Homo sapiens: one gene and its partners. The protein of the gene in region 1 purifies or fractionates together with the protein of each later gene. This does not show direct contact. Each region holds a gene or a part of one and is shown on either strand. Other genes may lie near its edges.

Region 1 (7,027 bases):
ACACTTTCCTAAAATACATTAAACCAGACATTCTCTCACAGTAAAACCACACATAATGACAATTCAGGTAAATAAATAAGGTTATACAATGAACAACACTATACATATACAAAGGAATGAACTCTGGAGTTACTCCCCTATTTCTAAACAGCAAAGAACAGTTATGTCTGCAGAATACCAACTTGGGAGCTTGAACCATCTTTAAGAAACAGTTATTATCCTATTACATGACAGCATTACCCTAAAAGAACATCTAGACATTTTCTAAAAAAAAAATCGTTATCAGCCGGGAGTGGTGGCTCATGCCTGTAATCCCAGCACTTTGGGAGGCCAAGGCAAGCTGATCACCTGAGGTTGGGGTTCAAGACCAGCCTGACCAAAGTGGAGAAACCCGTCTCTACTAAAGACACAAAATTAGCTGGACATGGTAGCGCATGCCTGTAATCCCAGATACTCGGGAGGCTGAGGCAGGAGAATTGCTTGAACCTGGAGGCAGAGGTTGTGGTGAGCTGAGATCACGCCACTGTACTCCAGCATGGACAAGCGTGAAACTCCATCTCAAAAAAAAAAAAAAAAAAAAAAAGAAAAGAAAAGAAAAAAGAAAAAAATCCTATCAGGCCAAGCACAGTTGCTTACACCTGTAATCACAGCACTTTGGGGGGCCGAGGCACAAAAATTTGAGGCCAGGAGTTCAAGATCAGCCTGGCCAACATGGCAAAACCCCATCTCTACTAAAAATACAAACATCAGTCAGGCATGGTGGTGTGCACCTGTAATCCCAGCTACTTGGGAGGCTGAGGCCCAAGAATCGTTTGAACCCAAGAGGCGGAGGTTGTAGTGAGCTGTGATCGCATCACTGCACTCCAGCCTGGGCGACAGAGCAAGACTCCATCTCTAAATGAATAAACTTTTTTTTTTTAATTACATAAAAGGGAACGTGAAATGTCAAGTAGTAGAGCACATTCCATAAAGAAACTGAGGTCCAAAGAAGGTATTTATCATTAGTAAAGAAAAGATGATAAATCTTGCCTACATTCTCAAGTCCACGTTGCAGTTTTAAATTTACTGTAAAACGATTGTAATGAGAAAATTCATATACAGAAGTATACAAAGTAGAAACTGAAAACTCCCACCCTCCCTTCCAACACCACGCCCAAGAAATAACCCAGTATTAACTAAGATCCACATTGGAAAGCCAGATCTTATGCAAAGATTAAAATAATGTTTCTCTACAAGTAACAATTACACCATACTCCTCTACTACAGCTTGGCTGTTTTTCAATTGAAAACATGGACATCTTTATCAGTATGTTTAGAGTGACCTCACCCTTTTAATAAGTGCTTGTTTCAAATTCTTCACTATTATAAAAATGCCCTCCAAAAACTTGTAGAAACCAGGATTGCCCTTTTCTCCATTTCTTCAAACATTTAAACCTTAGCCAATCTGACAAGTGCTACTTTACTGACAGTTTATACTTTCATCATTATTTCTGACATATTTTTAATGGTCCTTTGTGCTGCCATTGATGTAAATTTCCTGTCCTACTTTTCACTGGTTTGTTCATTTCTTACCGAAGAACTCTGTGTGTATTAAAGGTACCAACCATTTATCATAAATGGAACACTATAGAACTATGAAAATATTACATTTCTCCTTTCATTATCTTAACAATTTAATTTTAAACTTCAGATTCATCTAGAATTTTGGTACATGACAAGTGTGGCTTTGTTTTCTTCCAAACTGTCAGCTGTCTTATCACCAATCTACCAGACTCCACTGCTTTCCCCTACTGCACCAATATATCATCTATATACCATCTATCATTTCTGAGACTCCCATGTGTTTGCACTTACTTTTACTGCTCCATTACCAACTATCTATGCCTGTACCAATATAATGTTTAATGTTTTAGCATCTATACTGCCAATCCCTCCCATTACACGCTAATTTTCAAATCCATGTTTATAATTTCAAGCACAGACTTACTTTAGGAAATCGTGAAGATAATTGAGTAATAAAGCAAGGCTCTTCTCATCCAGAGGTGTATAAGCCAACATTGCTCCAATTCGTACTGTTTAAACAAGAGAATTTATCCAAAGTTACATCCAAGGCAGGGGCACTACAACCATGTATTTTAATTATGTGAGCAAACACCACCAATTCCTTTAAAATACATGATTTTAGGCCGGGCATAGTGGCTCACGCCTGTAATCCCAGCACTTTGGGAGGCCGAGATAGGCGATCGCTTGAGGTCAGGTATTCAAGACCACCCTGGCGAACGTGGTGAAACCCCATCTCTACAGAAAATACAAAAATTACCACAGATGTGGTGGTGCACACCTGTGATCCCAGCTACTTGGGAGGCTGAGGCAGGAGAATTGTTGAACCCAGGAGGCGGAGGTTGCAGTGAGCAAAGATCGCACCACTGCACTCCAGCCTGGGCAACAGAGACTGTCTGTCTCAAAAAAAAAAAATTATAAAATAAAATACACGATTTTTAAAACTCTTGCTCCTAAAGAGATTTTGCTATTTAACATTCTAGATAAAAGTTCAAATTAAAATGGGAGTCATGTTTTGGAAAGTTAATTACTTTACCTCTTATTCATTTAGAGAAGACCCCCCAAAAAGTAAAATCCATTATTTTCTACATGACATATTACCAAATAATCTCAGGAGATGTGGCGCTCCATACACCTGGGACATGGGTGCATCGGGATGATCTGCAAGAATTTCAGCATACTGTGGTCTCTCAAATTTATAGAGTAGCTGGGTACCCAACATTACGTTGAAGTATTCTTTTATCCCTGCCACAACTTCATTAACCGCATACTCCCTGATAAATGAACAAAAATATTCCAAAACTGGTCAATAAAAATAACTGACATAGAGAATAATTCAACCAATTTAAAGAATTAAAAGCTGAGCTAGTAATAATGAACCATAGCTGAGATTTTTTTAAAGGGCATATGAAAGCAGGGTTTGACAAACTAAAGCAATTAAGATGATTCTTACATTTTCAGATGGTTAAATTTTAAATGGTTATGCAAATACCTACATGATAGCTTAAATTTTACCTAAAATATTTACTATCTGGCCCTTTAAGAAAAAGTCAGCCAGCCAACTCCTGTGTCAAAGCAGTGAAATTCTATTTTGCTAGTTTCTGGTGGTATTAATGTTTCGGAGTCAGTACAAGTTTCAGATGACTTATTTAGAAACTTTTTTAAATGTCTTTTGAGTGTCATCTGAAAAATGTATATTCTTACTTATTATCTGTGTTTCCACGAGATTTCTTGTAATTTGCATAATCCTCAAGAATGGAATCCACATTCTTCTTGGCAGGAAGATAAAAGAGCTATGAAGACAAAAATATGCTTAAATATAAGCACTCTCTTTTTTAAAGAAAAATCATACCAGGCAAGTTTTTATACAAAGATCAGGTAACAGTAACAGTATTTCAAATTAGGAAAGATACTATTCAGCACTTAAAACATGGATAATGTGGCTGAGAAACTACAGACAGTTCCCAACTTACAATGGTTTGGACTTAATTTTCCAACTCTCTGCTGGGTTTATTGCGATGTAACCCCATTCTAAGTTATGGAGCATCTATATATTTAAACAGCCAAATGAGACTCTACTAGACAGAACAGCACAGCTTTTAAAAATGTCAATCTGTCACACACACATAACAGACACGAATGTGCCTTTGTGGTACTACCAAGTCATCATTTACTGTTATGCATACTATTTGCTAGATCTAGTCTAAAGCATTAAAATAATTATCTTTTCGTCCTCTCATCAGCATTGTCAAATACAAACTATTATTCCATTAAATGCAAAAACAGAAGCACAAAAAGGCTAAGAAACTTGTCCAAACTCACAAATAATAAGTGATACAGCCATGCTTGAATCTTCGCAGTTTAGCTGTAACTGCATAACCCTCCAAAGGATTCAAATCAGAATTCAAACTATATCCACATACTGTATATGACTGATAGGTCTCTTAAGTCTCATAATCCTCAAGCAGTCCCTAATCATCTCCCCCAACTATCCCTAACCCTACCTATGCCATTTGTTCAAATAGCTTCATTTGTCCTATAAAATTCTCAATTATAGAGTTCAACGATTGACAAACATGTCACTCCATTAAACATCCTATTTCCTGCAAACTAACAATAGATCCAGGCGCTTAGTAAGATTCAGGTTCTTTTCAGGGTCATGAATACCTTGCAGGTGGTGGTGTGTGCTTTCTATGGCCTACCATTAGCAATGACAGTAAGACATATGCTTCTTCACCTTTATGAATTTTCAGAACGAGTTCCTGCCCTAGCAATCTCCAAAAATGAGTTATTTCCACCTTTATCATTATAACCTCATAAAATTTATATGTGAACTTTTATTCTTCTAACTTACTCTTTCTGGTAGTAGTTCTAAAGTGTTCAGCCTCTAAATTAAAATATTATTTTATCAGTCATACCTTAATAATTCAAGTCAATATAACATTTTCCTTTAAAAACTTTTTTTGCTAGCAAGAATGTATCATATAGCTTAACAATCTGGGTAGCTTTTCAAGTTACCTGTTTTTGCCTGGTAATTAAGTCCCAGTCATCAACAAGCCACGGTTTTAGCTCTTCAGGAATCTTTACTTTAACTTCAACTCTGTTCATGAATGTTTCCTCCTAAACAGAAACAGGAGGAGTATTAAAAACCTAACCTTTCTTGCTAAATACCAAACATGGAGGGGAGCTGACTTTTAGAGGCACTAGGGATAAATCTTAAAGTAGCCAAGCATACAGCTGTACTGTCATTTTTTAAAATCATTAATAAAAACGACCATACGCGGTTCGCTGTTGGGAGAAAAGAATCTGACCTGAACTATAGTCTATTTAGTGCATTTTCTTGTAAAGGTAAAAATTCTTCAGTAAGGTTCCTCTTGTTCAGGAAATGAAACACCCTGACTTGATACATTTTAACTTAGTATTTTCTTATTTACCATGGATATCAAAACTATTCCAAACACAACCATCTTAAAGGTACATCTTTAACTCCTAAAAATAAATACGTAACACCAAAGAAATAGTCTTGTAGGTGAACATGAAGCTTACACAACAAATGATCAATTGGGTAGGTAAATCTGGAGCTACAGGTGAAATAAAGATATACAGAAATTTATCCTTTACCCCCAAAAGAGAAAATTTTTAATTTCAGGTATTAACCATGTAAGCAAATCTTGTAGATAATCAAAGCTCCCATGGTTATGTCATGTAACTGAGACTAAAAATCCTAACATGCTATTCATAAACACAAGAAAAACTCACATTTTCAACAGTAGGATCTACCCGGGCCCTTTTCTTCCGAGGAGGCTGAGGGGTCTCACTGGTACTGCCACCATCTCCATTTCCAGGTGCTGTAAATGTTGGCGGGGAGGGGTCTCATTTAGCTAATTTAACAAACTCTATAAGGAAAATAGTCTCTTGACACATTAACCCTTTTCATTATTTCTCCATTACACAGCTGTTACCTCAATCTAAGTTAAAGAATCATATTCCTACCAAAAATACAACTTTCATGAAGAGCTCTACCGAACATTTAGTATAGACAACATTTAGTATCACCATCTTCCATTTATTTATAAATGTTATCTTCTCAGTGGGAGACATTAAGACTAAAGCAGATGAAAATAAATGCTCACAAGTTTCTCCTTGGCAAAAAGAGGTCTCTACCACCATGTACCTATTTTATAACACTGCTGTGAGACTCCTATTTGAGATAATCAATAAACATAAGCTTACTCCAAAATTTCATAGCTTTCAAAATAAAAACGTCAATGTCATAGAGGTAACATAAATTAACGTTAAGAAAGTTAATATTCTTACTTTTCTGTTTGTTCTTTTTCGTTTTCCTAAAAGGAGAGAAAAAAAAGAAAAATAATTATTTCCAGTAAAACTGCCTCTGTTTCAACTCCCTTTATCAGGGTTAAGTTCACAGAGAAATACTAACTTGGATAAAGGATCAGGTGGTAAATATGTGTCCTACTCAGACACAAGGATTTTTATTGATAGTTGGTTAAATTCCCATCTCTCTCCACATAATAGAAAAAAATAAACCAAGCCAGGCGCAGTGGCACATGCCTGTAATCCCAGCATTTTGGGAGGTGAAGAGGGGGTGGATCTCTAGAGCTCAAAATTCCAGACCAGCCTGGGCAACATGGCAAATCCTGTTCTCTATAAAAAATACAAAAATTAACTGGGCATACTGGCAAACGCCTATAGTCCCAGCTACTTGGGAAGCTGAGGTGAGAGGATTGCTTGAGCCCAGGAGGCCAAGGCTGCAGTGAGCCTTGATTGCACCACTGCACTCCAGTCTTGGTGACAGAGACCCTGTCTCAAAGACAAAAAAAAAAGAAAAGCAAACCAAGAACACTTTAGTAAACAACTTCGTTCTTCCAGGGTTATATTAATATATGTTATAGTATATACTACATTATTAGGCCCACCAAAAAAAAAAGGTGTCAAAGGTTAAAATTTTTTTCCAATTATTTTTGTTCCCCAAAATATTTTTAGATTTGTGTAATTTTTTTGTTTTAAGTCTCCTCATCTTGATTATCATCTCTAACAGCAACTTACCTCACGTCACTTATATACTGTCAAATGGTAAATTGCTAATTTTGCTTTATTTATTTATTTTGAGATGGAGTCTTGCTCTGTCTGTTGGGTGATCTCGGCTCACTGCAACCTCCTCCTCCCGGGTTCAAGCGATTCTCCTGCCTCAGCCTTCCAAGTAGCTGGGACCATAGGCACCCACCACCACTCCCAGCTCATTTTTGTATTTTAAGAGACGGGATTTCACCATGTTGGCCAGGCTGGTCTCAAACTCCTGACCTCAAGTGATTCGCATACCTCGGCCTTCCAAAATGCTATTACAGGCGTGTGCCACCATGCCTGGCCTAATTTTGCTTTTTTACATTATTATTTCTAGACCACAAAGGAAACAGTTTATAGAGCCCATGATTATGGATTACTTTCG
Region 2 (7,014 bases), on another chromosome or scaffold:
AAGGACAACCTTCTGATTATGCTGCTGAGATCTAATGCAAAGTCCTCTCAGAGCTTCACTACACATAAACATTCCAGTTATAAAAATGTACCTGCTCTAATAGCCTGAGCATGACAGAATGCAAGTAACAGAAAATGTACAGATGAATACAAAGTGAAAAAGTGTCTCCTCAAAGACATTTCCCAACTCAACTATGGAACTAGCCATAATACTCAACATAGGTTTTCTAGCAAGCTGAAACTAAGGCTTTAGAAACTTTGAGAGTTCTTAGTAATTTGCTACCATCCAACCATTTTTGAGATCTCTACTAAAGCTTCAATACATACTTTTATGCCACAACATAGAAAGTAGGCCTCCCCAGATGTGTCTTGCTTAGTACCATTGAAGAAAGGTTGCAGAGAAACGATAATGAAATAATTGCTGAGAACACGGTATACCATACTTAAAAGGAAAAAAATGTGCATATGTGATACAAATATCAATAACATGTTTTGTGTAATCAACAAATGCCTCACTTAACTATAAAAATCTTAAATAAATTAGAAGCAACTAGTCTGAATAAGAAAATACTTTGGGGAAGGGAACATCACACACTGGGGCCTGTCGGAGATGGGGGCCAAGGGGAGGGAGAGCATTAGGACAAATATCTAATGCATGCGGGGCTTAAAACCTAGATGATGGGTTGATAGGTGCAGCAAACCACCATGGCACGTATACCTATGTAACAAACCTGCACATTCTGCACATGTATCCCAGAACTTAAAGTAAAATTAAAAAAAATTCATTAAATTAAATTAAAAAAAAAAAAAGAAAATAGTCTGCCATCTGCATAAGTCTACTGCAGGGTCCCTTTGTGTTTTAGAAATAAATATGGCCAACTTCAGAAACGTCTTTACGGGTAAGTGAAACATTCCTGTTCTGAAAGAAAAGAATATCATACTGAGACTTAAAAAAATAGTCCATAATGCACTGTCCACTGTGTTTGAACATTATCCCTTGTTTATAAAAACTGAGAATTTAATTGCAATAAAAATATGCTTTCAACTACTTCCAGCACAGGTCTTTCAACAATCTCTTTTCTTAGAGCAGAAGAGGAGATAAGGCTTAGCAAAATTTTTGACTCATATTCATCAAATACATCATCATCATAAGTCAGTAAGATACATTTTCTGGGGCTTTAATAACAAATAAATATGCAAATGATGAGTTCTAGTGTTAATATTTACTTAGATTTTTAAAGAATGAAAAAAAAAAGTTTTCTTAGTGTACCTGGCCATATCAAGAACCATAATCTCTCCTCTTCCTTTCCATAGAGAACCCCAAAAAATGGGCTCAAGGTTGATGTTTCTTTTAAACCCATATTTTATATTTTCCAGGGGAAAAAATAAAAGCTAAAAAACAAAAAGGAAAGAGTATTATTAACTTTATAAACAGTGAGCCTCCTGCAACAGAGCTCATTCCCTTTTGGGGAATCTGGACCATTCCCCAGAATACTAAGGAAGGGCTACCAAGGGCAGAGTCCAAGTTCAATGGTGAGAAATGAAGGCAGTGGCAGGATACACACAACGTCATTACAGTAAAAGGCACTGTCCACAAATATCTTACATTTTTCAATTTAAATATATGTCTTCTCCCTTTTCCTTTGGTGGAGACTTTCTTTTCAGCAGCCGGAGCAGATTTGTATTTAGTGTTTCTGAGCCGAGCAGACCTCCTGTGAATTTCCTGCTTACTCTGTTACACAAACAAATTAAAGAACAAAAAGAGAAAGAAGTAAAAAGTGCATAAAGGTTGCAGTACAATCATCTTACAAGGATCCCAGAGTATGTACTTTATAAGAGCATTTAACAATTAAGATTGCCCTTTTGCTTTTCAAGAGAAGTAATTACAGCAACTAGGCTAAGTAAAACCGGAAGTTCAGCACCCGGAATCTCGGAGCTCGCTGGACAGGCGTCTCCAGAGCCTCCAAAAGGTGTGAGCTGCTTGTAATAGGGCAGGAGGCGGGAGTAGGAGTCAGTCTTGACCAAGACAAACACTATTCATTTGTTGTGTCTACAATAGAGAAAAACACTTAACAACTTTACTCCCTAAGGCCAGAGAACGTAGTAGGTTATGGCGCCCCCTGCAACGGAATACTTAAGCTGCCATTTACAATAATGACATAATAATCTTACTTCATAACCTGATATGACAAAACCTTTAACAAGGAATGAGGTCCAGCGCCTGCATTTGTGGCATGACACTGTATACGACTGTGTAGACATGTGTATATTGAGATTTTCTTAAGGGCTTTACATCTTGGTTCTTATTGCTTTGAATTTCTTACAATAACAGGTGCTTCGGAATGGGCCAAACGAAAGATCTCAGTAGGAGGTGGGGAGGGGCGTTCCAGCCAGCAGGAGCACGGCGATCGGGGAAGCCCGCGCCCGCCCGCTCCCAGCCAGCCCGTCCCCGCCCGCCTAGCACCTGGTCGGCCTCCGCCGGCGGGAGGGGCCGGAGGAGCTCACCTGCTTGCCGCCCCCGCCCCCGTTGCTCTGCGGAGGGGTGGCGGAGGTGCTGGCGAAGGTCGCCGCGCCGAAGCCGCCGCCGCCGCTGCCCCCAGTCCCTCCAGCCGCCCCCGAGCCTGCGCCCCCGCTGCCCGCGCCGCCCCGGCCAGTGCAATGATGGCAGAGGATCTCCCCCTGCGCTCCCTTCTTCCACATGGAGGACGACGTGGTCTTGCATACGCTGCAGGTGGGCTTCAGGCCCAGCGGCATGGTGGCCGGCTCGGGCGGCCCCCGCGGGCGCAGAGACACGGGAATGGCGGACGGTAGCCCGGCCGCCCCCTGGTCGGCCCGCCACTCCCGGCGATAGGAAGAGCGGTGAGAGCGTCGGCACGGAGCTGCCGGTGAAAGGACCAGGCCGCTGGCGCTGCCCCGTGGAGGCGGGAAGCGGGTTCCGCCGGCTCCGCAGGCGGAGGCCAGGATTCCCTGGCCCGAGGCACTGGGAAGCAGGACTGGGAAAGGGATCTGGCCGGGGTGGGGGGGACGCGGAGACTTCCGGCGGTGAGCTGGCCCCAGGGCCCCGCAGCCCGACCGCCTGACCGGAAGTGCAGCACCCGGAATTACTGGGAGCTTGCTGCAGTTCCGCTTGCTGTCGCCTAGGGGCAGGGTTCTCAAACTTTTTGGTCTCAGGCCTAGAATTTGCCGGGTAAAATACAGGACGCCCAATTAAATGTGACTTTCAGGTAAACGACGAACAATTTTTTTAGCGTGAGTGTATCCCATGCAATAATGGTTTATCCGAGAGGCGTTTAACTGGGGGTCCTGTATTTTTATGTGCTAAATCTGGCAATCCAGGTCTGGCGTGGTGGCTCACGCCTGCAATCCCAGCACTTTGGGAGACCAAGGCCGGCGGATTACTTGAGCTCAGGAGTTCGAGATCAGCCTGGCCAACGTGGTGAAACCCCTTCTCTAATAAATATACAAAAATTAGCCGGGCTCAGTGGCGGGCTCTGGGGTAATCCCAGCTACCCTGGAGGCTGCGGCAGAAGAATCTCTTGAGCGCGGGAGGTGGAGGCTGCAGTGAGCCAAGATCGCGCCATTGCACTCCAGCCTGGGGGATAGAGTGAGACTCCGTCTCAAAAAAAAAAAAAAAATCTGGCAATCTTACTTAGGAACCCTTTACACTCTTAAAAATTATACTTTGGACATCGCCCTACACCTCCCCCATGTCTATACTTTTGTTTAGTTGAATTCAGAGCATGCCGTTTATGGACATCGACAAAGGGTTCAGAAAATGCCATCCACTGACATCTATGTATTAGAAATTGAAATTGAGACATTTTACAGCCTAAGATGTCAAGCGCACATTCTTCAGCCGTTGGATAATATCGTTGCAAATCCTGTGGACTCTGAAGAGTATACCGATTAGAGAATGCGGAGAAAATCGAATAGCTGGCTGTTATTCAATTCAAAACTGTTGGAAAACAGTTTTGGCTCTGAGGACCCAGCAGTTGACAAACAGCAGGCCTGGGACAAGAGCAGTATGAGAAGTCAGATCGCCTCTTTTAATGTCACTAGTCAGTACAGGCCTCGCCAGACAAGTCTCTCCTCAGCCTCACTTGGAAGAACATGCCCTCTCTTCATGATCCTGGGTTTCCTAGACTTAGTATCCTTGGAAAGGTCTTGATGAATATATTGTGGTGGGAAGCAGTGGGGAGAAACAAACGCCTATTATGTCACAAAACCACATTTAGTGCTTATAACAACCTTGGAATGAGATATTATCAGATTTTACTGTTAATTGGTGATCAACGGAGGCACTTCTATGTGGACTGGCTGTCATTATAGCTGCTGCCCTTGGCACCAATTTCGAGGAGGGCTTTGGAACAGCCCTCTGGGGTGTGGGTTGTGGCTCAGTCACCTCCCCTCTAAATCTCAGTTTCCTTAACAGTAAAAATAAGTTTCCAGGACTGTTATGGGGATTAGGGCCAACTGTAAAAGTGGCTGAGGAGACTAGGTAAAGAGTGTTGTCTCACTTTAGAACAATGCTGAAGGTGTTTAGAGCCTGCCATCCTAAAATATGCCACTTTGGCATACTGATTCTTCTGAGCCAGAGGCAATGGAGCAAAAACAGATGCAGGGAAGGCTGTCTGACCACCCTCTTTCTGTTTGAAGCGGAACATAAAAGTTCCCTTGTGAAAGGTGCCCTTTCTGTACCAGGAAGAGGAGAATATTATTGCCAGAGGCAGAGTTGCCACTGAGAAGAATCTACAAACAAAACCTTACAAAAATTTGTAACCCATATTTTCCATTAACTTTCTACATACGGTTCTTCGTCACTTTCCCACAATTTGCCAGCCTTAGCCCAAGCCCCTTTGTCTTGTCACATCCCTGCAATTTATTATTTTTTGTTTAAAAGGACATATAAGCTTTCGGGCCTAGTAACTTCTATGGGTCTTTATTTTTCTTACAAAGCCTCCTGTGCATGTACAAAAATATTAAAACTTTTATGCCTTTTCCAGTAAATCTGTCTTATGTTAGTGTAATTCCCATGCCCAGCTACAGAACCAAAGAGGTGAGAAGAGGCCAGGCGTAGTGGCTCATGCCTGTAATCCCAACACTTTGGGAGGCTGAGGCAGGTGGATCACCTGAGGTCAGGAGTTCAAGACCAGCCTGGCCAACATAGCGAAACCCCATCTCTACTAAAATTACAAAAAATTAGCTGTGTGTAGTGGCAGGCACCTGTAATCCCAGCTACTCGGGAGGCTGAGGCGGGAGAATTGCTTGAACCTGGGAGGCAGAGGTTGCAGCCTGGGCGACAGAGCGAGAGACTCCATCAAAAAAAAAAAAAAAAAAGGTGAGGAGGAAGTTTCTCCTCACCTACAGTGTGAGGAAATCTAGGCACTTGATTTCCATGCTCCTGAATGTCTCTCCATTTGGGAACATATACCTCTCCTTGCAACTCATCTGCAAGTGACTCCCTCTCATTCACTGAAAACTTTGGCCCATAACTCACCAGCTTCCTCTCCACTACAAGACACTGCCATGGATCAGGTCAATATCCACATGTACAGTTGTCCCTCAGTATCCATGGAGGATTGATTCCAGGACTCCCGATGATACCAAAATCCACAATCCATAAATGCTCAAGTCCCTTATATAAAATGGCATAGAATTTGCATATAACCTATGCGCACCCTCCTGTGTGCTTTAAATCATCTCTAGATTACTTATACCAAATATGAAATAAATGCTATATAAATAGTTCCTATACTGTATTGGTTTATTATTATTGTCATATTGTTCATATATTTATCTATTTTTGAGAATATTTTCGGTCTGTGGTTGGTTGAGTTTGTGGATGTGGAACCCATGGCTGTGGAGGGCCAACTGAATAACCACCCAACAGCAGGCTTCTCAACTCCTCCTCATCCCACTCATCTTCATCCTCTGTCCTTGTCAGCTCCCCAGTCCCTGGCTGCTGTATCCTCTAATCTTCTTAGATCATTAGGAAGATTTACATTTTTCTCCTTGCAAGTCCTTTTTTTTTTTTTTTTGGAAATCGTGCTTCCTTTTGAGTACTTAATTCACACTGTTTCCTCTCTTGGATGCTACTATGGTAACAGTCAGGTCCTCTCCTCTCAAGAACATTGCATCTGACCAGACTGAGAGCCAGCGTGAAAGCCAGCCTGAACATGGGCCCCAAATCAGGGTTTTTGGAATCACAAGGAACAGCAAAAACCAGCCTTTCCCTTCACTTAGAAAGGGACTGTGAATAGGAGGGCCCCAATCTCCACCATCCAAACAGAAAACCAAGAGCTCAGTGCCAACATGGAAACCAAAATGTATCAGGAATGAAGTACAGTACCCCCTCACATACTCAAGGTCAAGATGGGTTTGGGGAAATACCTATCTGACCATCTGGCCTCTTCTAGTAGGCATGGCCCCACACCAGCATTTTTAAAAGAAGATGTTTTCATTCTTCTTACATTTTCTAAAGGGGTATAAAATCTACTAAAAGGGATATAATAACTCAGAGTAAATGAGCTCACAAGAATCATTCCTGGATAATCATTTTTGGTTGCTGAGATTATTCAGCACATTACTTCAAAGTGGCAAAATTCAGGGCAATCTGAGAAAAGAGAATTAAAAAGTGGTGGCCACATTTGCTGACATGTTTATGTAGGACGCACATAACACAACTCCCATTTTTTTCAGTGTGTATGTCAAGAGGCCAAGACCCTGATCATCAAAATAAGTTATTTTGTGCATTACAGTGCACAGGACAACAGAGGGAATAACACTTTCTTGGAGGGTGTTGTGGGAATTCAGGGACCCCAAACGGAGGGACCGGCTGGAGCTGTGGCAGAGGAACATAAATTGTGAAGATTTCATGGACATTTATCAGTTCCTAAATAATACTTTTATAATTTCTCATGCCTGTCTTTAATCTCTTAATCCTGTTGTCTTCGTAAACTGAGGATGTGCGTCACCTAAGGACCACTGTGATAATTGTGTTAACTGTACAAATTGA
Region 3 (7,027 bases), on another chromosome or scaffold:
CAGACAAGCCCTGACCAGTGCCAATGGGGGTATTATTAGAAAAGGCATGCATACATTAACATATTTCCACCTCTGTTTGAGAGGGGACATTGAAATTAGGCTGACAAATGTCCACTAATTAGGCAGAGGCATTTTGTTACATCAGAACACATAAAACTGGTTATTCCATTAGGTCTTCCACTCATTTGACAGTTATAAAATGCACAGACAAATGAAGCACTGGAATTATTTTTTGTATTTTTACTAAATTTAGTATAATTCAGTAAGAATATTTTTGCAAAGTAGCTCATCTACTAACCAAAGAGGCTAGAATGGAGCCGCCAATCCATGAGCTAAACCTCCGTTCCACTGTTGTATTATTTGCAATCAATTTCAACCGCATACTCTGAAATAGAAGAATATGCATTAGTACAATCAAATCTTGTGACTCAACTTAGAAAATTCTTTTTTTTTTTTTTTTTTTCAAATAGAGACAGGGTCTTCCTCGCCATATTGTCCAGGCTGGTCTTCACATTTGCACTCAAGCAATCGGCCCATCTCAGCCTCCCAAAGTGCTGGGATTACATGCATGAGCCACTTGCACCCAGCCAGGAAATTCAATTTTGACAGACTTCATAATGGCTCCCTGTGGTTCAAACACTGATTAAAATACGGTAATTTTGAAATAGCCAAGATAACAAGCATAGGTTAGACTAATGTACAGACTTTTAAAAGTACTTTGATTATGGCTTTTAACATGCGATTATATGATGAGAAAACATACAAACTTTAAAAAGCTGCATACTGAAGTATAGCATTCACAATTTCTATCCTAAAATAGCAAATCCACACCTAACACTATAAATCTGGTGCTGTGCTAAGTCTTTATTATTTCATTTCATCCAACACCAACCTAATTATCATCCCAATCTGTCTCCCTTTCTGTAGTCCTCCCCAACCTTCTAACTGCTTCCTTTCTAGGCTTTCATGCTATCCTAATCCCTCCTTAGTTCACCCCAACCCTTCTAAATAAAAACACAACCATCAGATATCAGGTTAGTTTTTTATTCATACTATTTCCTTCCAAATTAGTGCTTCTGTTCTGACTCTCATTTTCTCTTGATAACACAATTTTATTGCACAGTACTATCCCCTATATCTCACTTCCTATATGAAGAGGTTTTTTTCTTTCTCTTACCAAGGAATCTGCCTCTGGGGACAGTTCTCAAGTTGTTGACATCTTCCTATTATTCTATAAATGAACATATTTTTGGGGCTTTTCAAAGTGAAATAAGTATGTGTGCAGCAAGGGTGGGTAGAGTATGGGATATGGGTGGGTAGAAGGTACTGGGGATAGGGTAAACATGGGTTTTTGTAGGTAAGAAAGATTGGTAACTATTAAATAGAATTTTTTTCCTGTTCTTTCAGAGATTGTTATCACCTCCTAAAGGACAAGGATAGTTTCTAACTGGCCTTGACCACAGCTTGGGCCATGCTTATCTGTATTCATTATTCAGGGACTTTCTATGAAATCTAATCATTAGTATTATAGACCGGTGCAGTGGCTCACGCCTATAATCCCAGCACTTTGGGAGGCCGAGGCGGGTGGATCACCTGAGGTCGGGAGTTTGAGATCAGCCTGACCAGCACGGAGAAACTGCATCTCTACTAAAAATAAAAAATTAGCCGGGTGTGGTGGAACATGCCTGTAATCCCAGCTACTTGGGAAGCTGAGGTAGGAGAATCACTTGAACCCAGGAGGCGGAGGTTACAGTGAGCTGATATCGTGCCACTGCACTCCAGCCTAGGGGACAAGAGCAAGACTCCATCTCAAGTAAATAAATAAATAAATAAATCTCCAATCAATCAATCAATCTAATGATTAGTATTATAATTCAGGTATGCTCTAGATCTCCAAGAATTTAGAAAATACAAGGCAGATGTCAACTGTGTGCCTATATATTTAGATATCACTTTTAATAATAGAAATGTGGCACACGTAAAACATTATTTTATATGGGAAGCTAAAAGACTATTAAATATACAGATTTATAGATATTGTTAGGGCATATGTAACCACTAATAAGGTTTTTTAAATGTAATCTTCAGTGCAGAACACCTTACAAAAAAAGCACTTGAAGTTTTGTTGTTGTTGTTTTTTTTTCCTGAGCCAGAGTCTTGCTTTGTCACCCAGACTGGAATGCAGTGGCATGATCTCGGCTTACTGCAACCTCCGCCTCCTGGGTTCAAGCGATTCTGCTGTCTCAGCCTCCCAAGTAGCTGGGATTACAGGCACGTGCCACCGTGTCCGGCTAATTTTTGTTATTTTTTTTTTTTTTTGAGATGGAGTCTTGCTCTGTTGGAATGCAGTGGTGTGATCTCAGTTCACTGCAACCTCCACCTCCCGGGTTCAAGCAATTCTCCTGCCTCAGCCTCCCGAGTAGCTGGAATTAAGAGGCTCCCGCCACCAGGCCCAGCTAATTTTTGTATTCTTAGTAGAGATGGGGTTTCACCATGTTGGCCAGGCTGGTCTCCCTGACCTCATAATCCATCTGCCTCGGCCTCCCAAAGTGCTGGGATTATAGGCGTGAGCCACCACGCCCAGCTGATAGAAATTTTAAAGTTAAAAGATTATAACTGTCATTCTGTTACCGAAGTACTATATAAATTACCTTCTCAAACCGAGTTTTTCTATTCTTTTAAAAGTTATTATAATATACCCACTGATCTTTTTAAAACAAACATGAGCTCATCAGTCCACTGCTAGATTTTATCCTGTGAAGAAGGAGGTATTTTCCCCTAGAGATTCAGCATAGCTCCACTGACACCTTGAGGCTTCTAGCCTCAAGAACTATAAGACAACAAATTTCTGTTGTTTGAAGCCACTAACATGTACTTTGTTACGGCAGCTCTAGGAAACTAATCCATCTTTCTAGCCATATTGCTTTCCCCACTTACGTAAAGACTAGAAGCCAACTACTTTGAATTACTGGAACATACCTGTCTTCTCTTAGTATTTTTGTAAATGGTTTTATTCCCTCCATCTAGATATCCTTTCATAAATTAGCAATGAGTTGAACTATTCATTCAAACTATAGCTTCTTCAGGAGGCTATCCTCTGATACTCCTAGAGAGTTAAGTAGTGGCTTCTTGGTGTTCCCAACAGCACCTCGTTCATGACATACTGAATTGTTGAGCATGTTACAGTCATCATTTTCTGCATGTCTAACCATCCTAGTAGACTGAGCCCTTGGTGTGCAGGGACTAGTGCCTAGCAGACTATACATATTTAAATATTAATAAATGAGATTCAAATAATTTAAGAGAAACTAATAGATGTCAACTAGGAAAACGATTAAAGGATATTAACTTTAGTGATACTATACCAGGCACACACAAAATATCATGTATCTATTGAAAAATGGACGCTTATCTACAAAATTACACCATCAGTGAGGAAATATATGACTGAAGAATACCATTAAAGAACAAACAGAACTTACTGGAGGAGTTTTCTGAGACAGCTCTCTATTCAACCTGTCAGTAAAACTCTGTATTAGTGTGTTTCCTCCTGCCACTATTACACTGCCATAGAGACCCTAGGATAAAAATACAAGAAAAATCAATTAGTTCCATATGTTTCCAAAAGTTTTAAATACAACTACAAATATAACCATGTGCTCTACTACAATTTCCCTTTCGTTTTTTGGAAATGTTTTACTATTATATAGAACTAATAGCTTAATCCATCAATTCTCCATCCTGGCTGTACATTCAACTCATCTAAGGAGCTTTTAAAACACAAATTCCTAGGGGCAATTAAATAAAAATGTCTGGGGATGGGATCCAGGCAAGGTTACTTTTAGAGACGGGGTCTCGTTATATTGCCTACATTGGAATGCAGTGGCTATTCACGGGCACAGGCATAGCGTACCACAGCCTCAAACTCCTGGGTTCAAACAATCCTGCCTCAGGCTCCCAAGTAGCTGGGACTACATGCCACTGTACCTGGCAGGCATGGTTTTTAACTCCCAAGATTATTTTAATGTGTACAAAGTTTTAAGAACCACTAACTTAAAGGAATCATTCTAAAAATCATAATTTTTTTTTGGCAGATAGCTGCCAATATTTAATTAGAAGTACATTTTATAATGACTTTATCTTAGAATGCTCATCTGGAAATATTAATAGCAACCACCAGCCAAAAATTAAAATTACAAATATTTTGAAAAAGAATGCTTATCTGTAAGTTAGGATATTCAAAGAATGCTCATCTGGAAATATTAATTGCAACCACCAGCCAAAAATTAAAATTACAAATATTTTGAAAAAGAATGCTTATCTGTAAGTTAGGATATTCAAAATTAGACAATTATTTTATGATTATGACAGACAATGATAAACTCTGAACATATTCCTCGCCAAAATTATTGCTACTTTTCTCTTTTGCAGAGGTAAGCATCAGAAGCACATGGGAGCTTTTCCAAAACACATATGCTAAGCCCTTCCCAAATAAAAATAAATTACTACTTATAAGCAGTGTATTTACTTTGAATTTGCATGTATGCATCAGAAAGTTAAATGTCAAACTGTTTTAGTGGGTAAGTTCCTATTTTTAAAACATACTTCAAATGTCTAAATCATCTAAATTTTGAAGTAGAAAATGGAATGCAAAAGTATCTCATTAGTTAAAAGGAGAAACTTCACTAAAAACAGTTATCACTGTTGCAATAAATATACTTCAATTCAATTACCTTCCCCGAAAGGTGGAATTGTATTTGCGCTAAAAAAATCCCAAACTTATACTACTATTGTCCTAGAAACATCACATGCCTACTAGGTTACCAGGTGAAATAAAGGTAAAATAAAGTATGATTTTCATAGCCACTCAAAGCCTTTTTTGAATAACATAGTAGTTATTAGCACTATGCTTTAAGCAAATTAATTTACTCAAAATCTAGGCAGTATGTGGGTGATAAGCTGAATTGGGTTTAAATAAGATAAAGTAAGTCCTCATTTAATGTCATCAATATGACCTTGGAAACTGACTTTCAGCAAAATGTCATGTAACAAAACCAATTTTTTTCCTGAAACAATGTCCTTCAAGGACCTACTGTACATCGTTTCAGTTAAAGTTGCAGTCTCCAAGAACCTATCACTGATAATGAGTGAAGTATATAATATGGAGTTAGTATTTAAAACCTGACAAAGCACAAAAAATATGAAGAGCATTTAAAATAAACTTCATGTAAAAGTTACTCATATAATTTAAACCACGCCTTCCTGAAAAATAAAAGTAGAAGTTGTGCTATCTGTAAGAAAATCACCAACAATACATATTTTGGTTTGCCACATTTCAGGAAATCTCTAGCGCAGTCTACAATAACTTTCTGTGATGATGCAAATGTTCTATATCTGCGCTGTCTGATGCAGCCACTAGCCACATTTATAATGAGGCTACTACAACTGAAGAATTGAGTTTTATGTTTTTATCTATTTTAAATTTAAATTGCCACATGTGGCGGGTAGCTACAAAACTGGACACCATAGCTCTAGAGTTTCACATTTTTCCTTTTCTAGTACTTCATCTTTTTACATATACTGTTATAAAATGAACCTCAAAGTCAATGACACTGACAACCATTAGATCACTGTCAACCTAACAATGATTTGGGGACATTTCAGTCCCCTAAAAGATACCTTTAAACCGTAACAGGAGACTGGCACTTACTGGTCTGATGTCAATATCACACATCCCAACACTTGTGGTGACAACATGACTGACTCCTAACATTGTGTTTCCTGATAACCCCTACAACAAAAGAAAACAAGTAGTCACATGGAAGCTCTTCATACAGTAAAGCATATCCAAAACATTTTAGCCACAAAAGCTCTTTACCTATATAGGAAAAGCCAGGCTAATTATGAAATAAGCTTTTATACCTTTACATTGGAAGGGTCAAATAATCCTTCTGGAATCTTTAGCCGCTCTGCACCAAAATCACAATTGTAGCCATTGGGGAATTCATAATGAACAGTTGGCATCTGTGCAGCCACTCTGAAAACATATTAAACCGTATTACACAAAAGACAAAAAATAATTCTCTTCAAAATTATAAACTACTAGGGAATTATAAACTTGTAAAAAAAAAAAAGGGAGTGAGAATATTTTAAACATTATTCAATTAAGTATTTTTTAAACAAATCCTTTCCTCATTTATAAAGTATACATTTTAATAAGAAAACATACTGTTCATCATAAGTTGAATCTGACACTTGAAGTACCGAAGCTTGAAAATCCTGGATAACACACTGTGAGTAAAAGAAAAAAGTAACAAACAAGGTTGAGATTTATCTTTGTAATCTATACTTTTATAACATATTTTAAATACTTTTCTGAATGAAATTGGACCATGTTTCTAGATGGGTAAATCATTTCAAGAGTATAAATGTACCTAACAAGGATTCTGAGTATCAAGAAACCTAATTCTAATCATTTGCATTAGAAGTTAATTACACACATTTAAGTTACAACAGTTATGAAATGAGAGATAAATAACTGCAGGTGCAGGAACCCCTGCACCACAGTTCTGCATAACAAAACCAATTTCAGAACACCACTTTCTCCTTAAAAATAAGCTAGATTAGAAGCAAGATTTCATTACCTACATATACACATGTGCATGTACATCACATTTTATGCAACTTTTAATGACTGTACATAGTATAAAACAGTTTAATAAAATGTTGTGAACTAACACGACCTCTAGAAAAATCTTGTCTAATATCTAGGAAAAATGACTAATCATCCTAATTTTTCCTCGTATATTACATGTGCACACAGACAAAATCTTTATCTTTAGGTGCAAAAACTGTCAGAGCTGGATGCAGTGGCTCATACCTGTAATCTCAGCACTTTAAGAGGCCGAGACAGGAGGATCGCTTGAGGCCAGGAGTTCAAGACCAGCCTGGGCAACATAGCGAGACACTGTCTCTATAAAAATAAAAAATTAGCCAGGCATGGTGGCATGCACCTGTAGTCCTCCCT
Region 4 (7,027 bases), on another chromosome or scaffold:
TTGAAAAGTCACTGTCTTAATGATAATATCCATTAAAAAATGTAACTCAATATTGGCCGGGCGTGGTGGCTCATGCCTGTAATCCCGGCACTTTGGGAGGCCAAGGCGTGCGGATCATGAGGTCAGGAAAGCAAGACCATCCTGGCTAACAAGGTGAAACCCCGTCTCTACTAAAAATACAAAAAATCAGCTAGGTGTGGTGGCGGGCGCCTGTAGTCCCAGCTACTCGGGAAATCGCTTGAACCCAGGAGGCAGAGGTTGCAGTGAGCTGAGGTCACACCACTGCACTCCAGCCTGGGTGACAGAGCGAAACTTCGTCTCGAAAAAAAAAAGAAAAAAAAAAAGAAAAAAAAAATATATATACTGAATATTAACAAAGGTATTAACTGAATTATTTCAGCTACTTGTTAGAATACACTGGATGTGTAACTTTAATAATATATTAACATCATTATGCAGAGACTGTTAAACTGCAAGCCCGGTAAATACATACTTCAGGGCTAAAAGCCATTTAAAAATTTCTGATTACAATATATTCAGGCCGGGAGTGGTGGCTCATGCCTGTAATTCCAGCACTTTGGGAAGTTTAGGCAGGCGAATCACTTGAGGCCAGGAGTTCGAGACCTGCCTGGCCAACATGACAAAACCCAGTCTCTACTAAAAATACAAAAATTAGCCGGGCATGGTGGTGGACGCCTGTAATCCCAGCTACTCTTGAGGCTGAGGTACGAGAATCACTTGAACCCAGGAGGTGGAGGTTGCAGTGAGCCGAGATTGCACCACTGCACTCCAGCCTGGGCGACTGAGCGAGACCCTGCCTCATAACAAACAAAAACAAAACACAAAAAAACCCCAATATTTAAAGAAATAATGCATACAGTTGTCGGGGAATGAACAGTAAATTGTGGGAGTAGTAAACTGGGTAAATCACTTTGGAAAATAGTTTTCTATGAAGTTGACAATGAATACACCATACAACCTAGCAGTTTCACTACACTAGAGAATGTAGTATTTTTGAGACAGGATCTTGCTCTGTTGCTCAGGGTGGAGTGCAGTGGTGTGATCCTAGTTCACTACAGCTTCGAACTCCTGGGCTCAAGCGATCCTCAGCCTCCCAAGTAGCTAGGACTACAGGCATGCGCCACCACACATGGCTGATTTTTAATTTTATTTTTTGATAGAGACAATGTCTCACTGTGTGCCCTGAGTGGTCTTAAACTCCCAGGCTCAAGCGTTCCTCCTGCCTTGGCCTCCCGAAGTGTTGGGACTATGGGTATAGCCACTGCACCTGGCCAGTATTTTATTTTCAATAAGAAAAAAACCCTAAGGCACATATTAGAAAGTGCTAATAGCGTTAAGCCATTTGGGACTGTGAAGAAAGAGTTAATACAGCAGTCTGGGTGCTTAGCCCTGGAGTCTCTGAGGAACACTGGGACCCTATTACTGACCCTTGGCTAACTCCTGGGAACATGCACCTCAGAATGTTCTTTCTGTCACTGATGAACTGATGATTTTGTGGTGTGCACCTGGAGCAATGGACCGCGTTGTACCAGTTTGTCAGGGTTACTCTGCAGATATCAAGATTGATGACACGTACCTTCTTTTATTACTGGGTCCTCAGTTTGTATTACTGGGGTCCTCAAGTTACAGTTGCTGTGGCTGGTTGTCAGCAGGATGTGCCTATGCAACTAGTCCCCCAAGAAAGCCTCAGACCCCAAGACCCAAACAGGCTTCCCTGAGCAGAGATATTTCACACATGTCCCTGCAGTTTGCTGCCGGAAGACACATCCTGTGTGGCCTTGGACAAGACTTGTGCCAGACCTCCCTGAACTTGCCGATGTACATCTTTTTCCTGCTGCTTTTGTGTTCTTTACTGTAACAAACTTTAGCCACAAGTATAATTTGCTCTTGGGAGTCCTAGCAAAATCACCAAACTTGGGGTGGTCATGGGAATACCAAAACAGGAGAGTATATGTTTGACAAATTAAAAAAAGAAAAAAGCAGCCAACAGATTCCTGAATTAACCCTACCACTACTGCCTCTCTCCTCAAACAAAAAATACCCATTGCACACACCAACACATATTACTTTTACCAAAGTGGAATACTGTAATTACACATAGCAGTTAGTCACTTAATTTATCTTGGATACCTTCCTATACCAGTGCCTACAGATTTTTCTCATTAAAAAAAAAAATTTTTTTTTTAAATTTTTGGTAGAAATGAGGTCTGTGTTTTTCAGACTGGGCTTGAACTCCTGAGTTCAAGCAATCCTCCCACCTTGGCCTCCCAAAGTGCTGGGATTATAGGCGTGAGCCATGGCACCTGGCCTTTCTTATTAATTGCTGAGTAGTATTTCAAACATACCATGTGCTTAACCAACTTTCTATGAACCAACATCTGGGTTACAAGGTTGATCCTAATTTTTCAATTCTGCAATTACGACTAAAATCCTTGTGCACATGTGGGTGGGAAGTTCTGTAGAATAAAGTCCTAGAAGTTAAATTACTGGGCCAAAAGCTAATAGTATAGTTTTAATAGCATATGCTTTGAAAGAGACATTTTCCCTTTGACACCAATATTGGAATATATGATATACCTACCACCCTTGTCACTGTCACAATGGGAAGCATCAAACTGTGCATCATCATTGGGAATATGTACTCGAGCAACCACCAGATGATTCTGCTCATCAGACGTATGAGTCCCCAGCACTAGCCAATGAAGGGCATAATCTTTTCCTTCAGGTCTGTTTAAGAAAGAAAATAAGTCACACTAATCCTACAAGAAATCTCCAATTGCTAACAAATTCAGTCTAGTTCCCTCAAAATACATTCATATTTCTTTAGCAAATATATACTTAGCATCAACTGTGTATCTTCTCCCCCTCTGGTTACCAACTTTACAATCCCCACATATGCAAATATAAGAAAATATTCTAGCTACAACATGCAGAGGGCTTGCTTCTTTCCCAAAGAGCCATCCTCCTGTGCCTCAATTATCAGCGTGAACACTACCTTTTATAGAGCAGCACTCCGGGGAAGGTAGGCCCAACTCAGTAAACACAGACAAACATCTACACAGGAATCCACCAACAATCCCCACACTCATAAATCACAACTTCCCACCTAAAGAAATCTTCTTCCCACCTAAAAATATCTTATACACTAGATGTTTCTTATTTCCCAATAAGAAATTCTACAAGGTAGTATGGACAGAAAGTGTTGAATCAAAAAAACTTAGCTTAAATCCTGGATCAAACTAAAATGCAGTTGCTTAAAACACAACCTCCCTGGGGCCTCAGTTTCTTCACTGAATAAAATAGGCTATAAGTGCAAATGGCATGATGTGAAACTCACTGACGTTTATGATACCTAAGTTTATGAAACGAACATTCTCAATTTTACCGAGGTATCTTTGTTACCTTGTTCTGTGGAAACACCTTGAGGCTGAAGAACTTGCCCAAACCTCTTGGCACCTTGGTCCGAGCAGTGATTTTTGCATCAGTATCTATTAAAAAGGCTTTCCCATTTGTATTATCTAGAATACAATTTTCAACTGTGCTCCATGGTCCCACTTCAATGAAGAGGACTGAGAAGTAGGGGTCTAGGCCCTAACACAAGACAAGTTAGGCCATTTATCTGTTTCTAAATTTCAGCTGCACAAAGGATTCAATTTTTTTTTTTTTTCTAAAAAGATTGAAGATTACTTCTAGGCAAGTAATTTAGTAATAAGAAAATACAAGATGCAATTTTACCAAAATTTGGCTTACGGTAAAAAAGTGTGTGCACATGGAGAAGAGACACACACACACACAGACACACTCCCCCCAAAACAGAGTAAGGCAGCCGTGACTAAGCAATAGCAACGTGTTTGAAAAAAAGACAAATGGGCGCCGTGGCTCACGCCTGTAATCCCAGCACTTTAGGAGGCCAAGGCAGGCGGATCACCTGAGGTCAGGAGTTCGAGACCAGCCTAGCCAACGTGGAGAAACCCCATCTCTATTAAAAATACAAAATTAGCCGGGCATGGTGGCGCATGCCTGTAATCCCAGCTACTCAGGAGGCGGAGGCAGGAGAATCACTTGAACCTGGGAGGTGGAGGTTGTGGTGAGTCAAGATCTCAAGATCACACCATTGCACTCCAGCCTGGGCAACGAGTGAAACTCCGTCTCCAAAAAAAAAAAAAAAAAAAAAGAAAAAGAAAGAAAACATGGGTCTTGGTTGATACATGCACAGTGGGCCAAGAATATGATGTGGCTATCAAAAAATTAATTAATTCCATCTTAGGTGGTCTTTATATGTATGTAGGGGGCAATGCACATGAGCACATGTGCCCCCCACCCCCGACCTTTTCTTTTTTTAAGAGACAAGGTCTCACTATGTTGCCCAGGCTGGCCTCCAACTCCTGGACTCAAGTTGATCCTCCTACATCAACCTCTTCAGCAGCTGGGACTACAGATGTGTGCCACCATATCTGGCTTGCCCACTTATTTTTAACCAGTAAAACCATTAAAATTAGGCTCTAAGCAACATACTTTATGAGGACTTGGATAAAAATCAAACCTTTACAGGGAATAGTGGCTTAAAATGAAAGGGTAAGCCAGGTGCAGTGCTGTGCACCCGTAGTACCAGCTACTAGGGCTACTACGGAAGACTGCTTGAGCCTAGGAGTTCATGTCCAGCCTGGGCAACATAGCAAGACCCTGTCTCAAAAAAAAAAAAAAAAAAAAAAAAAAAGAATAAATATTTGGCCGGATGTGGTGGCTCACGCCTCTAATCCCAGCACTTTGGGAAGCCAAGGCAAGCGGATTGCTTGAACCCAGGACTTCGAGACCAGCCTGGGCAACGTGGCAAAATCCCATCTCCACAAAAAACAAAAAACACAAAAACAAAAAACAAAAATTTAAATAAATATTTAAAAAGAGAAATAATAATGCTTGAGAGAAAGAAGGCACCACAGAGCAATGCTGGTACTGTCATCAAAGGAAAAAAGTCACTTGTTTTTTGTGGAGTTGAGCAGGAAAACTAAGACCAACAAGTAAAAAATAACAGGTAGGTCAGTTTATCACAGGCCCTTTCTAAGGAACACTGTCCCAAGACGGACTGGAGGAGCTTAAAAATCCCTCTGGACTCAAATTTAATTATTCCAGTTTTCCCCAACTTGATCATCATATGAGGACTTTTCTTTTTACTAGAAATCCCTTCACCTCCATCATTAAAACACAGCCTGTTTTCCTAAACTAATCAATATGACACTATTTTCCTCCAATACTGGATGTACCTAAAGGCTGCAGAAGGACTAATGGTTAAGAAAGCCTATTCATTTTCAGTGCAGAATCCTTTGACCCCAGTAACTACCACTAGGAAATTTAGCCAAGCATCACATAAATCTGGCCTATTGCAAGATTATTCTCAGCAGTATTGTTTATAGAAGGAAAAAGACTGAAAATAACTAAGTATCCATCAGCAAGGAACTGGTATCATACATTACACAGTGTATCCATAAACAAAATTCTATGGCACTCTTGAAAAGAACAAGCATATCCAAGCATGCTGACAGGAAAATCTCCAATACATACTCTTACTGACAAACTCAAGTGAAGAACTTGCTACCATAAAAAATGAAGATACAGGTATGCACTTCTACACGCTGGCAAGGATGGGTTAGGAAATTGAAAACAATGACTGGGGAAAGGAAGTAGGACAGTAAGGGATGTGGAAAGGGGACTTATTCTTCACTCTATGTCCTTTTATACTTCCTGAATTTGAAAAATTACAAAGCTTTTTAGGTAGACAATAAGTTAGTCTCAATATATTTAAGACATTATTCAACAAGAGATATGAAATAACTATCTAATTAAAACAAATTTCTTAGAGATACTTAAATAAAACCTTTTAAAAGCCAAATCAACACCTGTAATCCCAGCACTCTGGGAGGCCGAGGCGGGCGGATCACGAGGTCAGGAGTTTGAGACCAGCCTGACCAACATAGTGAAACCCTGTCTTTACCAAAAATACAACAATTAGCTGGGTGTGGTGGCACAAACCTGTAATCCCAGCTACTCAGGAGGCTGAGGCAGGAGAATCGCTTGAACCCGGGAGGTGGAGGCTGCAGTGAGCCAAGATGGTGCCACTGCACTCCAGCCTGGGAGACAGAGCGAGACTGTCTCAAAAAAAAAAAAAAAAAAAAAAAAAAAAAAAAAAGAAAGAAAGAAAGCAAGAAAGCAAGAAAGCAAGCCAGCCAGCCAAATCAATTATTTGGACAATTACCTAACTCAATTGAAGGACAATAGCTAAGAAAGTCCAAGTAATCGTTATGAAGCATGTTGTAAGTCAGCAGAAGAAAGGCCTATGAGGTGGAGTAGGATCTTGTTCCTCAGAGTCAGGCATTGAGAATAGTCAACATTTTTACTGTTCTGTATGGTGATAAAACACAGTCCCTTTATACCCCAAACTGAACCCTGCAAAGCACCACACAACAATCCTCAACATCCAAGAATGCAGGCTGCTTGGCATTTTCTTACATTCTCTAAGCCACTGCACATCCCACAACCCAATCCCACAACAGCTTTGTATACAAAGAACACCATGATACACATTAAATAATTTAATTAAAGCATTTTGTTACATTCCTAAGTATTACATATTATAGGTAACATTTTTTTAAAAAAAACTTCAGCAAGTAGCTTTCATTGAAATCCAAATGAAGAAACAGAGCTATTTCAATCCTGACAAATTATTTCTGAACAGGAAGGGGTGGGAGAATCAGCATCAGTCACCACTTACCGTGTACTTATGCTGCACCAGGCACTTTAACATGCATGATCTTATTTCATTCCCTCAAATGTAGGTAGTCAGTATGACCAACATCTCCATTTACAGCCCAGACAACACGGCCCCAGTTCATGAAGCTAAGAAGTAGGGGCATGATTTTAACCCAGGTCTCTAAGTTTAAAGCCCCTGCTGTTTTCTATTATGTTACAGTGGGTCAAAAAGATCCCCCAAAAGGTAAATTTAGTTAATACA

The links.
Region 2: the proteins of MORF4L1 (region 1) and GATAD1 purify together in Homo sapiens (affinity purification with mass spectrometry; 9 studies listed by BioGRID and IntAct, with this or other methods). This does not show direct contact.
Region 3: the proteins of MORF4L1 (region 1) and ACTL6A purify together in Homo sapiens (affinity purification with mass spectrometry; 6 studies listed by BioGRID and IntAct, with this or other methods). This does not show direct contact.
Region 4: the proteins of MORF4L1 (region 1) and RBBP7 purify together in Homo sapiens (affinity purification with mass spectrometry; 7 studies listed by BioGRID and IntAct, with this or other methods). This does not show direct contact.

The regions. Positions count from the first base shown.
Region 1 is NC_000015.10:78,889,865-78,896,891, reverse strand, and holds part of MORF4L1 (mortality factor 4-like protein 1), read right to left. Parts: intron 5,904-7,027; coding exon 5,878-5,903; intron 5,409-5,877; coding exon 5,320-5,408; intron 4,681-5,319; coding exon 4,579-4,680; intron 3,354-4,578; coding exon 3,265-3,353; intron 2,835-3,264; coding exon 2,662-2,834; intron 2,073-2,661; coding exon 1,988-2,072; intron 1-1,987. UniProt on the Homo sapiens protein: Component of the NuA4 histone acetyltransferase (HAT) complex which is involved in transcriptional activation of select genes principally by acetylation of nucleosomal histones H4 and H2A.
Region 2 is NC_000007.14:92,443,469-92,450,482, reverse strand, and holds the start of GATAD1 (GATA zinc finger domain-containing protein 1), read right to left. Parts: upstream 3,002-7,014; 5' UTR 2,754-3,001; coding exon 2,505-2,753; intron 1,732-2,504; coding exon 1,606-1,731; exon of another isoform or gene 1,392-1,605; coding exon of another isoform or gene 1,227-1,391; exon of another isoform or gene 1-1,226. UniProt on the Homo sapiens protein: Component of some chromatin complex recruited to chromatin sites methylated 'Lys-4' of histone H3 (H3K4me), with a preference for trimethylated form (H3K4me3).
Region 3 is NC_000003.12:179,579,904-179,586,930, reverse strand, and holds part of ACTL6A (actin-like protein 6A), read right to left. Parts: intron 6,292-7,027; coding exon 6,230-6,291; intron 6,038-6,229; coding exon 5,923-6,037; intron 5,792-5,922; coding exon 5,711-5,791; intron 3,579-5,710; coding exon 3,483-3,578; intron 386-3,482; coding exon 299-385; intron 1-298.
Region 4 is NC_000023.11:16,860,353-16,867,379, forward strand, and holds part of RBBP7 (histone-binding protein RBBP7), read right to left. Parts: intron 2,749-7,027; coding exon 2,603-2,748; intron 1-2,602. UniProt on the Homo sapiens protein: Core histone-binding subunit that may target chromatin remodeling factors, histone acetyltransferases and histone deacetylases to their histone substrates in a manner that is regulated by nucleosomal DNA.